3 linked regions of the Homo sapiens genome follow. The protein of the gene in region 1 purifies or fractionates together with the protein of each later gene. This does not show direct contact. Each region holds a gene or a part of one and is shown in the gene's direction. Other genes may lie near its edges.

Region 1 (3,834 bases):
GAGACTTGTGCTGGAGACCCTCTGTAAACTCAGTATCCAGGACAATAATGTGGACCTGATCTTGGCCACTCCTCCATTTAGTCGTCAGGAGAAATTCTATGCTACATTAGTTAGGTACGTTGGGGATCGCAAAAACCCAGTCTGTCGAGAAATGTCCATGGCGCTTTTATCGAACCTTGCCCAAGGGGACGCACTAGCAGCAAGGGCCATAGCTGTGCAGAAAGGAAGCATTGGAAACTTGATAAGCTTCCTAGAGGATGGGGTCACGATGGCCCAGTACCAGCAGAGCCAGCACAACCTCATGCACATGCAGCCCCCGCCCCTGGAACCACCTAGCGTAGACATGATGTGCAGGGCGGCCAAGGCTTTGCTAGCCATGGCCAGAGTGGACGAAAACCGCTCGGAATTCCTTTTGCACGAGGGCCGGTTGCTGGATATCTCGATATCAGCTGTCCTGAACTCTCTGGTTGCATCTGTCATCTGTGATGTACTGTTTCAGATTGGGCAGTTATGACATAAGTGAGAAGGCAAGCATGTGTGAGTGAAGATTAGAGGGTCACATATAACTGGCTGTTTTCTGTTCTTGTTTATCCAGCGTAGGAAGAAGGAAAAGAAAATCTTTGCTCCTCTGCCCCATTCACTATTTACCAATTGGGAATTAAAGAAATAATTAATTTGAACAGTTATGAAATTAATATTTGCTGTCTGTGTGTATAAGTACATCCTTTGGGGTTTTTTTTTTCTCTTTTTTTTAACCAAAGTTGCTGTCTAGTGCATTCAAAGGTCACTTTTTGTTCTTCACAGATCTTTTTAATGTTCTTTCCCATGTTGTATTGCATTTTTGGGGGAAGCAAATTGACTTTAAAGAAAAAAGTTGTGGCAAAAGATGCTAAGATGCGAAAATTTCACCACACTGAGTCAAAAAGGTGAAAAATTATCCATTTCCTATGCGTTTTACTCCTCAGAGAATGAAAAAAACTGCATCCCATCACCCAAAGTTCTGTGCAATAGAAATTTCTACAGATACAGGTATAGGGGCTCAAGGAGGTATGTCGGTCAGTAGTCAAAACTATGAAATGATACTGGTTTCTCCACAGGAATATGGTTCCATTAGGCTGGGAGCAAAAACAATGTTTTTTAAGATTGAGAATACATACCTGACAACGATCCGGAAACTGCTCCTCACCACTCCCGTCATGCCTGCTGTCGGCGTTTGACCTTCCACGTGACAGTTCTTCACAATTCCTTTCATCATTTTTTAAATATTTTTTTTACTGCCTATGGGCTGTGATGTATATAGAAGTTGTACATTAAACATACCCTCATTTTTTTCTTTTCTTTTTTTTTTTTTTTTTTAGTACAAAGTTTTAGTTTCTTTTTCATGATGTGGTAACTACGAAGTGATGGTAGATTTAAATAATTTTTTATTTTTATTTTATATATTTTTTCATTAGGGCCATATCTCCAAAAAAAGAAAGAAAAAATACAAAAAACAAAAACAAAAAAAAAAGAGGGTAATGTACAAGTTTCTGTATGTATAAAGTCATGCTCGATTTCAGGAGAGCAGCTGATCACAATTTGCTTCATGAATCAAGGTGTGGAAATGGTTATATATGGATTGATTTAGAAAATGGTTACCAGTACAGTCAAAAAAGAGAAAATGAAAAAAATACAACTAAAAGGAAGAAACACAACTTCAAAGATTTTTCAGTGATGAGAATCCACATTTGTATTTCAAGATAATGTAGTTTAAAAAAAAAAAAAAGAAAAAAACTTGATGTAAATTCCTCCTTTTCCTCTGGCTTAATGAATATCATTTATTCAGTATAAAATCTTTATATGTTCCACATGTTAAGAATAAATGTACATTAAATCTTGTTAAGCACTGTGATGGGTGTTCTTGAATACTGTTCTAGTTTCCTTAAAGTGGTTTCCTAGTAATCAAGTTATTTACAAGAAATAGGGGAATGCAGCAGTGTATTCACATTATAAAACCCTACATTTGGAAGAGACCTTTAGGGGTTACCTACTTTAGAGTGGGGAGCAACAGTTTGATTTTCTCAAATTACTTAGCTAATTAGTCTTTCTTTGAAGCAATTAACTCTAACGACATTGAGGTATGATCATTTTCAGTATTTATGGGAGGTGGCTGCTGACCCACTTGAGGTGAGATCTCAGAAGCTTAACTGGCCTGAAAATGTAACATTCTGCCTTTTACTAACTCCATCTTAGTTTAATCAAAGTTCAATCTATTCCTTGTTTCTTCTGTGTGCCTCAGAGTTATTTTGCATTTAGTTTACTCCACCGTGTATAATATTTATACTGTGCAATGTTAAAAAAGAATCTGTTATATTGTATGTGGTGTACATAGTGCAAAGTGATGATTTCTATTTCAGGGCATATTATGGTTCTCATATTCCTTCCTACCTGGTGCACAGTAGCTTTTTAATACTAGTCACTTCTAATTTAAACTTTCTCTTCCTGGGTCATTGACTGTTACTGTGTAATAATCGATTTCTTTGAAACTGCTGCATAATTATGCTGTTAGTGGACCTCTACCTCTTCTCTTCCCTCTCCCAATCACAGTATACTCAGAATCCCCAGCCCCTCGCATACATTGTGTCGGTTCACATTACTCACAGTAATATATGGAAGAGTTAGACAAGAACATGCAGTTACAGTCATTGTGAGACGTGACTCTCCAGTGTCACGAGGAAAAAAATCATCTTTTCTGCAAACAGTCTCTCATCTGTCAACTCCCACATTACTGAGTCAAACAGTCTTCTTACATAACAATGCAACCAAATATATGTTGAATTAAAGACCCATTTATAATTCTGCTTTAAATACATCTGCTTGCTAAGAACAGATTTCAGTGCTCCAAGCTTCAAATATGGAGATTTGTAAGAGGGAATTCAATATTATTCTAATTTCTCTCTTACAGAGTACAAATAAAAGGTGTATACAAACTCCGAACATATCCAGTATTCCAATTCCTTTGTCAATCAGAAGAGTAAAATAATTAACAAAAGACTGTTGTTATGGTTTGCATTGTAACCGATACGCAGAGTCTGACCGTTGGGCAACAAGTTTTTCTATCCTGATGCGCAACACAGTCTCTAGAGACTAATCCAGGAAGACTTTAGCCTCCTTTCCATATTCTCACCCCCGAATCAAGATTTACAGAAGCCCACGAAGAATTTACAGCCTGCTTGAGATCATCTTGCCTATAAACTGAGTTATTGCTTTGTCCTAAAAATTAGTCGGTTTTTTTTTTTCTATGAGGCTTTTCAGAAATTTACAGGATGCCCAGACTTTACATGTGTACCAAAAAAAAAAAAAAGATAAAAAATAAAGGTGCAAAGAAAGTTTAGTATTTTGGAATGGTGCTATAAAGTTGAATCTGTTGGTATTTGAGTGGATTTTTTTAATGTCACATAAGAGATACTGGGCGGCGTCTGCTCAGCAATAGCTATTCACAGTGTTTTGTTCGAGGAAGAGAATGATATAGAAGCATGTTTTACTGATGAAGGTGGCCTGTTCAAAGACTAGTTAAGCTGTTTTTTCAGAGTTATAATGAAGAATGATTTTTTTAAGGGCATATGGGCAGTCTCATACAATGTAAGCTATTAACTACCTCCTTTATGAAAAGAAGCCAGCCTTTGCCCTGAAGTCCATCCATTTAAAACTGTTGGAAATCTTTCATTTCCTATCAAACCACATGTACCTGTTCCCATGTCTGTTCACCTTTGAGGAAGCAAAGAAAGTATTATAAATGAGCCACAAATGGACAGTGCAAACAGTCCCTGTTCTTCTTGCTGAGTGTTGGTTCAC
Region 2 (3,500 bases), on another chromosome or scaffold:
TTAAAATGTAAATGTTAACACTTTTCCTTCCTGCTGAGATGTTTAGAGCCTAGTGCCAGACCCATTCATTTCCTTTTGATTATTTTTGAGACTCAGTACTGCATGGACCTCAGAAGCTTTTCAGGTGCAAACTTCTAGAAGCTTAGGTGCATGCAGTAATAGCTTCTTGTGCTGTTAATGGGTTATTATATATTATTCTAAGTGTAATGCTGAGAATCTAAATGTGTCTCTGTTGGGATGGTTAACAGATGAATTGGCAATTTTTATTATGTTCCTGGAAGATTACATTATTCATTTGAGTACCTTCTGTTATTAAGCCTAGGTAGCCTTACTGTGCAACTTTTTATTTATCCTTGGAAATTTTGAATGTTGTGTTCTTACAGAGAGCTTTTCTGTAGAGATGACTGCTATTCAATATTTTGTGTTGCAACCTCTTAAAATAATAGCTCTTGTTGACCTTTTTGGGATCTGTTTTTCTGATCTTTTGCAGGGTAGTTTTATGATTTTTTAGGCATCAAATAACCTATGCAAAGTATTAATATAATGAACTCAAGTTGAGTTTTTCTCATTATAAAGTTAAGACTTCTAAGAAAATGGTAACATTTCTTTATAACTTTCCTGTGAAGGTATAGATAAAACACATGAAGTCTGAAGTTGTATGGAAAAAAGGGCTTTAACTTTGAAGGAAAATATATTGAAAAGTGATTTAGCCATCACAAAAGAGTTCGTATTTATGTGACAGATGAAAGTCATACCTTTAAGCAAAACATTGCAAGTATTATAAAGCTGAATGCTATTTTAACTCACATTGGCTGGGTGCAGTGGCTCACGCCTGTAATCCCAGCCCTCTGGAAGGCTGAGATGGGAGGATTGCTTGAGTCCAGGAGTTTGAGACCAGCCTGGCCAACATGGCAAAACCCCATCTGTACAAAACATTTAAAAATTAGCCAGGCGCGTTAGTGTGTGTCTGTGGTCCCAGCTGCTCAAGAGGCTGAGGAAGGAGGTTCTTCCTCCTTCCGAGGCTGCGGTGAGCTATGTTCACTCCAGCCTGGGCAACAGAGCGAGACTCTGTCAAAAAATAAATTAAAATATCTGATTATCTGGCTTCAATGATTTTGGCTCCTGTGCTTGTGGTACCATAGTGGTACAAAAATTTTCATAGTTTGAAAATAAAACAGGTATTTTGCCAGTAATGTATTTCTTTCTGCCAGCAGCCAAGTCCCAAACCACTTTCCCCTCTGAACCTCTGCTTACCTAAATGGTTTCAAAATTAATACATGCTGCTTTGATTTGGCAGCACACTTAATATACTGCTGAAGGAAAACTTGTGTTGAAAGTCTTTAAGATAAAAATGGTGTGATAGGCCGGGCGCAGTGGCTCACGCCTGTAATCCCAGCACTTTGGGAGGCCCAGGCGGGTGGATCATGAGGTCAGGAGATGGAGACCATCCTGGCTAACACGGTGAAACCCCGTTTCTACTAAAAATACAAAAAATTAGCTGGGCGTAGTTGCGGATGCCTGTAGTCCCAACTACTCTGGAGACCGAGGCAGGAGAATGGCGTGAACCCGGGAGGCATAGCTTGCAGTGAGCGGAGATCACACCACTGCACTCTAGCCTGGACGACAGATTGAGACTCCGTCTCAAAAAAAAAAAATGCTGTGATTAAATTTAGAATAATTAAGTAAGGGGTGCTCTCCCAAATTCTCAGGAATTTCATGTATACGGTTATTGACAAACTGCAATAGGGTTAGTAGACCTGTTTCAGAAATTATGTGAAGCTTTATTTGCATTTTATGCAAAGAAGGTTGATACTTTGTAGCAAGGTTTTTTGCTCTCTGTATAGGTCTGATGGGCAAAAATGGAACTTTTAAATATGGGATAGAATTCTAATTAAAAATTAATTGAAAGTGTTAGGCATTGGCAGATAAAACTTAAGCTCATGAGTTCCTGAGTTTGTAGCTATAGGCTCAGAGGTGGTGTACCCATTTAATATATTTGAAGTGTAATTTTTGCATGCATCCAAACGTAATTAAGCTTCTAGAAAATACCTTTTTTCTAAATGCTTCTGGGGTCCATAGTGTGGTTGAATTATGAGTGGAGCAAATTATATTCATATAATTAACTCTGACTCAACCTTCCTTAAGTAGTAGATGAAGTTGAGTCAAAGTGGATGCCAACTGCCCTCACAGAAGACAACTTTTGGGACTTGATAATTCAGGCAGGCATTGTGATTGTCATAATTAAGGAAGCTGTAAGGTTAGTAGGGCTGGCAACTTTGGCTCTACCTTACATCCACCCCTTTTAGAAAAACAAGAAAACATTTTGTCTGGCACTAGTTTCTGTTGTATAAGTTTTCATACTGTTTAACAAGACCACAGCAGGTAAGGATTAATTTTTGAGTGGCTGCTGGAATTACTTGATTTGAATACTTAGTATTTTAGTAGTGTCTCACACATTTGCCATTAGGTATGAATAAAATATTCCTACTGTACTCCTATTCCACTAAGTTACATTTTGAACTTAGACTCACCTTAATTAAACTTAATTAATTGGGGAGGGGGATTCCCCAACAAAAAGAAGTACGGGCTCAGAGTGGAATTGTAGTGGACAATAGTTAAAAACAAAGCTGCTCCTTTTGCTTGCTTGATCATTGGGATTTTTAAAAAAAAAAATTTTAATGCATGTCTTTTAAATTAATTGGGAACTGTTTTTCTAAAATTAAAATTTTCTTCTTCCTATAGCCCTGCCATAGGACAGGCTGAGGCTGAGTCTCAGTGTTGCCCTGTTCAGTCTGAGGCAAGTGGGATTTATTTTATTCCTTATAGGGGCTTTCACAGCTTTATGGCTGTTGGATATTTATGTCCCCAAACTTGCAGCAAGTTTGGTGAAGGCCCCTAAATTTAATTAAACTTAGGATTTTTATACTCTTTTGGCAGAGAAGGCTCTATATTAATATTCACGTTTGACTGTGGTGTTAATAAACATAAGTATTTCATATGCAATTTTATGTAATTTGCTGTGTGTTACATAATTAACAGCTTCAGTAAAGCTTGTGTTCCTATATTGAACTTCAATAAATTGACAAAATTTGATATTTTTGATTGGAGGCAAGAAATGTTTCATTCAAGTTTTTTACTTTCACTTCTAGGAAAATCTTACTGGTTTTATTTTCTCCATAAACTATTAAATTTAACCTCAAGGATAAGTTTAATCATTGGAAATGCCACTGGATACTGAAATGTGCCTTCTCTTTTTTGAGACGGAGTTTCACTCTTATCACCCAGGATGGAGTGCAGTGGTGCGATCTCGGTTCACTGCAACCTCTGCCTCCCGGATTCAAGTGATTCTCCTGCCTCAGCCTCCCGAGTAGCTGGGATTATAGGCTCCCGCCACCACATCTGGCTATTTTTTCAATATTTTTCAGTAGGGATGGGGTTTTGCCGTGTTGGCCAGGCTGGTCTCAAACTCCTGACCTCAGGTGATCCACCCATCTCAGCCT
Region 3 (3,734 bases), on another chromosome or scaffold:
AGAATAAAATCAATCAACTTTACATCTTAGCTCATTCTGGCAGCATTGTGCAGGATAGATTAGAAGGGTACATGCATGGAGGAGAGACACTAGGAGATGAAACAGCTCAAGAAGCAAAGTTTGAGGGCTTTGAGCATGGCAGCAGCAATGGAGATAGAGAACGGATGATAGATTTTCAGAAAATCAGTTTGCTAACTGGATGTGGAAGGCTAAATAAAAGGAGGAGTTGAAGACAACACCTAGACTGATTTGATTGGGTAGATTAAATAACATAGAAGAATGGGTGGTGGTCTTGGGAAAAAGATATGATAATGGGTTGTAGTTATATTGTGAAATTTACTTTGGGATTTAAGTTTATAGAATTTAAATACCCTCAAAACAATTCCTAAAATCATGAGAGTGATCGTTCAGTAATAAATACTAAAGGCAAAGATAGGCAGGCTTTTGTCATGTCTAAAAGTAAGCTGAGATTTTAATTTAGGGAAGCATGGTTATAGTTACATAGAAACTTAACTAAAGTCAGGTTCGTAACATATTAAGAGTTTTAAAATTACATTCTTCTAAGTTAGTCATAATTGTTTATTTCTTTAAGTAAATTACTTTCAAAATACTATACTACTGACAAAAGTTTAAGATAAATATGTTCTATAAGTAATGAAATACTTAAATCAAGTGAAAAACCACTTGTGTGTTTTGGCCTGCATTTAAAGATCTAGGTCTTAAAGAGAGCCATGCATCTAATTAATAAGACTGTGTTATTCGTTTATATGTTATTGTTGTTGTAAACAATGTTAGACCTAGGCATTTGTAAAATTAGTTATGATTTGGCCATACTTATTTATAATTGGAGTCCATAACAATTTAAAGTGAAGGTTTAAAGAAAGTCTTCCTGTCATCCCTCTTCCATGTTCTCATTACTATACCTGAAAACATACTTACTTGCTCCCCTCTAGCTTGCTCCTGTCTGTGGTATTATAGGTTCTACCTTCTCTAGTCTTTACTGTGTCTCCCCTCTCTCTGCCCTTTACTTAGCCACCAAAGTGATCCTTTTGAAATACAGATCTGATCATGCTTTTTGGCTGTCTATATAACCTTTTTTATTTCTCAATTTTAATTGAAGCCTTTACATTAATATATCCTGCCATGGCTTCATGATCAAGCAAAAGAGGAAATAATGCTTAGCACAACAAAAGGTGCCCCAGACCCTGCACTAACCGTATGGCTGATTGGTCGGTGTTTATACCACATTGGTTGTTAACAAAGCACATGCCATATTATTAGTTGTTAATATTTTTAATATAATCTCTACTTCAGGTACAACTCTTAATACATTATATTGACATTATCTAATTTTAGTATATTGAAATGATATATATCATTGTGTATATTGAAATAATCCAAAGATGTCCTCTATAAACCAAAGTTTCTCGAATTTAGGGTATGTTTCTTAGTCATTTTTCTATCACCTGCACTTATCACGTAATAGGCATTTATATGTTGATTCAATTAATCATCAAATTGGCAAGGGGGTGAACAAATCCTAGATGGCATAGTGCTGATTACATTGTCAATAGCACACTTTATAAAATTCTATTCATGACTGTTCGTCAGAGTGGTATCCCCACTTTACAAATGACTCAAAGACTCATTATTTTGACTACGGTCCACAAATCATACGTGGTAGAGCTAGGGATGAACCCAGATTTGTCTGACTACAAAGCCCAGGAGTTTTTGCACTGTCTGTAACCACTGCTTTAAAATATAGATAATTAATAAATCCTGTTAAATGACACGATTAACATTGAAATAACAGAAAATTCACTGATCAAACTGTCCAGCTAGTAAATTTGGAAGTGAGTTTAATATTTTAAAAAACCACAATAGCAGCTGGGTGCAGTGCCTCACGCCTGTAATCCCAGCACTTTGGGAGGCCAAGGCAGGCGGATCACCTGAAGTCAGGAGTTTGAGACTAGCCTGGCCAACATGGTGAAACCCTGTCTCTACTAAAAAAAAAAAAAAATACAAAAATTAGCTGGGCATGTTGGCGAGCACCTGTAGTCCCAGCTACTCGGGAGGCTGAGGCAGGAGAATTGCTTGAACCGGGGAGGCAGAGGTTGCTGTGAGCCGAGATCACACCACTACTCTCCAGCCTGGGTGACACAGTGAGACTCTGTCTCAAAAAAAAAAAAAAAAAAAAACAAACCCACAATAGCTAGAATATATTTAAAATGTAATTATATTGTTAGGCAACATATTTAAGAAAAAGTAAAAGATAATATTATCTAGTTGATACTAATGCTTGACCCACCTAAAAGTCAGTATCACTTTTACAATAATTTATTCTTCAAAGCTATCATGTCACCTTAGTATCACAGATGTATGTGAGTAATTCTACTAGCATTAATGGAAATTGTGCATATAAATCTCGATGAGTTAAGTGAACATTTACCCTTAAGGATTATTTCATATCAGAGTAGTATCATATGGAGTCCGCATGCATTGTATAAAGATAAGTGAATCTTTTGTATAAAGAATAGATAATTTCAACTTCTGCCAAGAACACAACATGCACATTCAATATATAAATGTTTATATATGTATTTCTAATTGTTGTTAATATAGGATGAGTTCCATTTGGGACCAGAAATGAATGTTTTGATGATACGTTATTTCTATCTTTATAGATATTAGAAATTGTCTCTTAAAGCGCTAGTTATACTAGGAAGCATCTCTGATAGTTTAAAATAAAAGAAAAAAATCCCCAAGCGTATCTCTTACTTGTGATCCAGGAGCTCAAAAAGATTGCTAGGTTGATCTCTATCTAACCTGCAGTTCAGTTTGTTTCTTTGTTGTTGTTTTTTAATGCCTCAGGTATAGCATAGATATCTAATTCTTAGCCTCTGGTTAAGACTTCTATTACTTGGTCTTTTATGTAACACAGTTTCCTATTATAATCAGCAAAAATGTAGTAAGTAGTATTACAGATTGAGATTCTTATAAAAAATGGATAGAAAAAAACTACCAGTGATAGTTTTAGAAACAGCTAGTTTGCTCTTTGCACCTATTTTAAAAGAAGGAAAGGAAGGGCCTACACTTTAAAAACAAACAAAATCCCCAAACCTTAAAGGCTTTTTTAAAAAAGAAAACTTTTTATTTGGAGATAATTTTGACTTACTTAAGACTGAAATTCTTTATAAAAATTTTGTATAAATGGTATGACACCTTTTTCTGAATTGGGCTGCTAACACTGAGGCCAGATGCATGACTCTTAAATGTAGCAATCATAGGAGTTGAGTCGTTACTACTTTCTGAAAAGTGAGAAAACAGTAAAAGGTTTTCACTCAATTAAGCTTAATCTGCAGGCAAAGATGTTAATTTAACAGACTTTGAGACTCCATTTATGTTATTTTGGCAATTTTAACTCTCCGGGTGTGATTAAGGAAGCAATTGCTAGTTTTATGCCAAGAATTCTGGATGAATTAACAATTAATTAAGAAACAACCTTAAACTTGGCATTAACTCCATATTTGGATAGTTCTGAATAGTTTCTATATAATTAAAAAAAAAAGTAAAACCAGCCACCATGGGTGTTCTTAATGAAATAAAAATTAATGAAGTAATTTTATTATGTGTAAACCATACCGTTGAAAGAAAACCTAAACTATGTGTAGTATTAATTACATATAGTGATTTGACTTAAAAAATCAAATTGATAATGGGTTTTGTAAATAAAA

The links.
Region 2: the proteins of ARID1B (region 1) and ZNF207 purify together in Homo sapiens (affinity purification with mass spectrometry; one large-scale study listed by BioGRID and IntAct). This does not show direct contact.
Region 3: the proteins of ARID1B (region 1) and AGPS purify together in Homo sapiens (affinity purification with mass spectrometry, with the first as the bait; one large-scale study listed by BioGRID). This does not show direct contact.

The regions. Positions count from the first base shown.
Region 1 is NC_000006.12:157,207,378-157,211,211, forward strand, and holds the end of ARID1B (AT-rich interactive domain-containing protein 1B), read left to right. Parts: coding exon 1-514; 3' UTR 515-3,402; downstream 3,403-3,834. UniProt on the Homo sapiens protein: Involved in transcriptional activation and repression of select genes by chromatin remodeling (alteration of DNA-nucleosome topology).
Region 2 is NC_000017.11:32,370,657-32,374,156, forward strand, and holds part of ZNF207 (BUB3-interacting and GLEBS motif-containing protein ZNF207), read left to right. Parts: 3' UTR 1-3,500. UniProt on the Homo sapiens protein: Kinetochore- and microtubule-binding protein that plays a key role in spindle assembly. ZNF207/BuGZ is mainly composed of disordered low-complexity regions and undergoes phase transition or coacervation to form temperature-dependent liquid droplets.
Region 3 is NC_000002.12:177,493,741-177,497,474, forward strand, and holds part of AGPS (alkyldihydroxyacetonephosphate synthase, peroxisomal precursor), read left to right. Parts: intron 1-3,734. UniProt on the Homo sapiens protein: Catalyzes the exchange of the acyl chain in acyl-dihydroxyacetonephosphate (acyl-DHAP) for a long chain fatty alcohol, yielding the first ether linked intermediate, i.e. alkyl-dihydroxyacetonephosphate (alkyl-DHAP), in the pathway of ether lipid biosynthesis.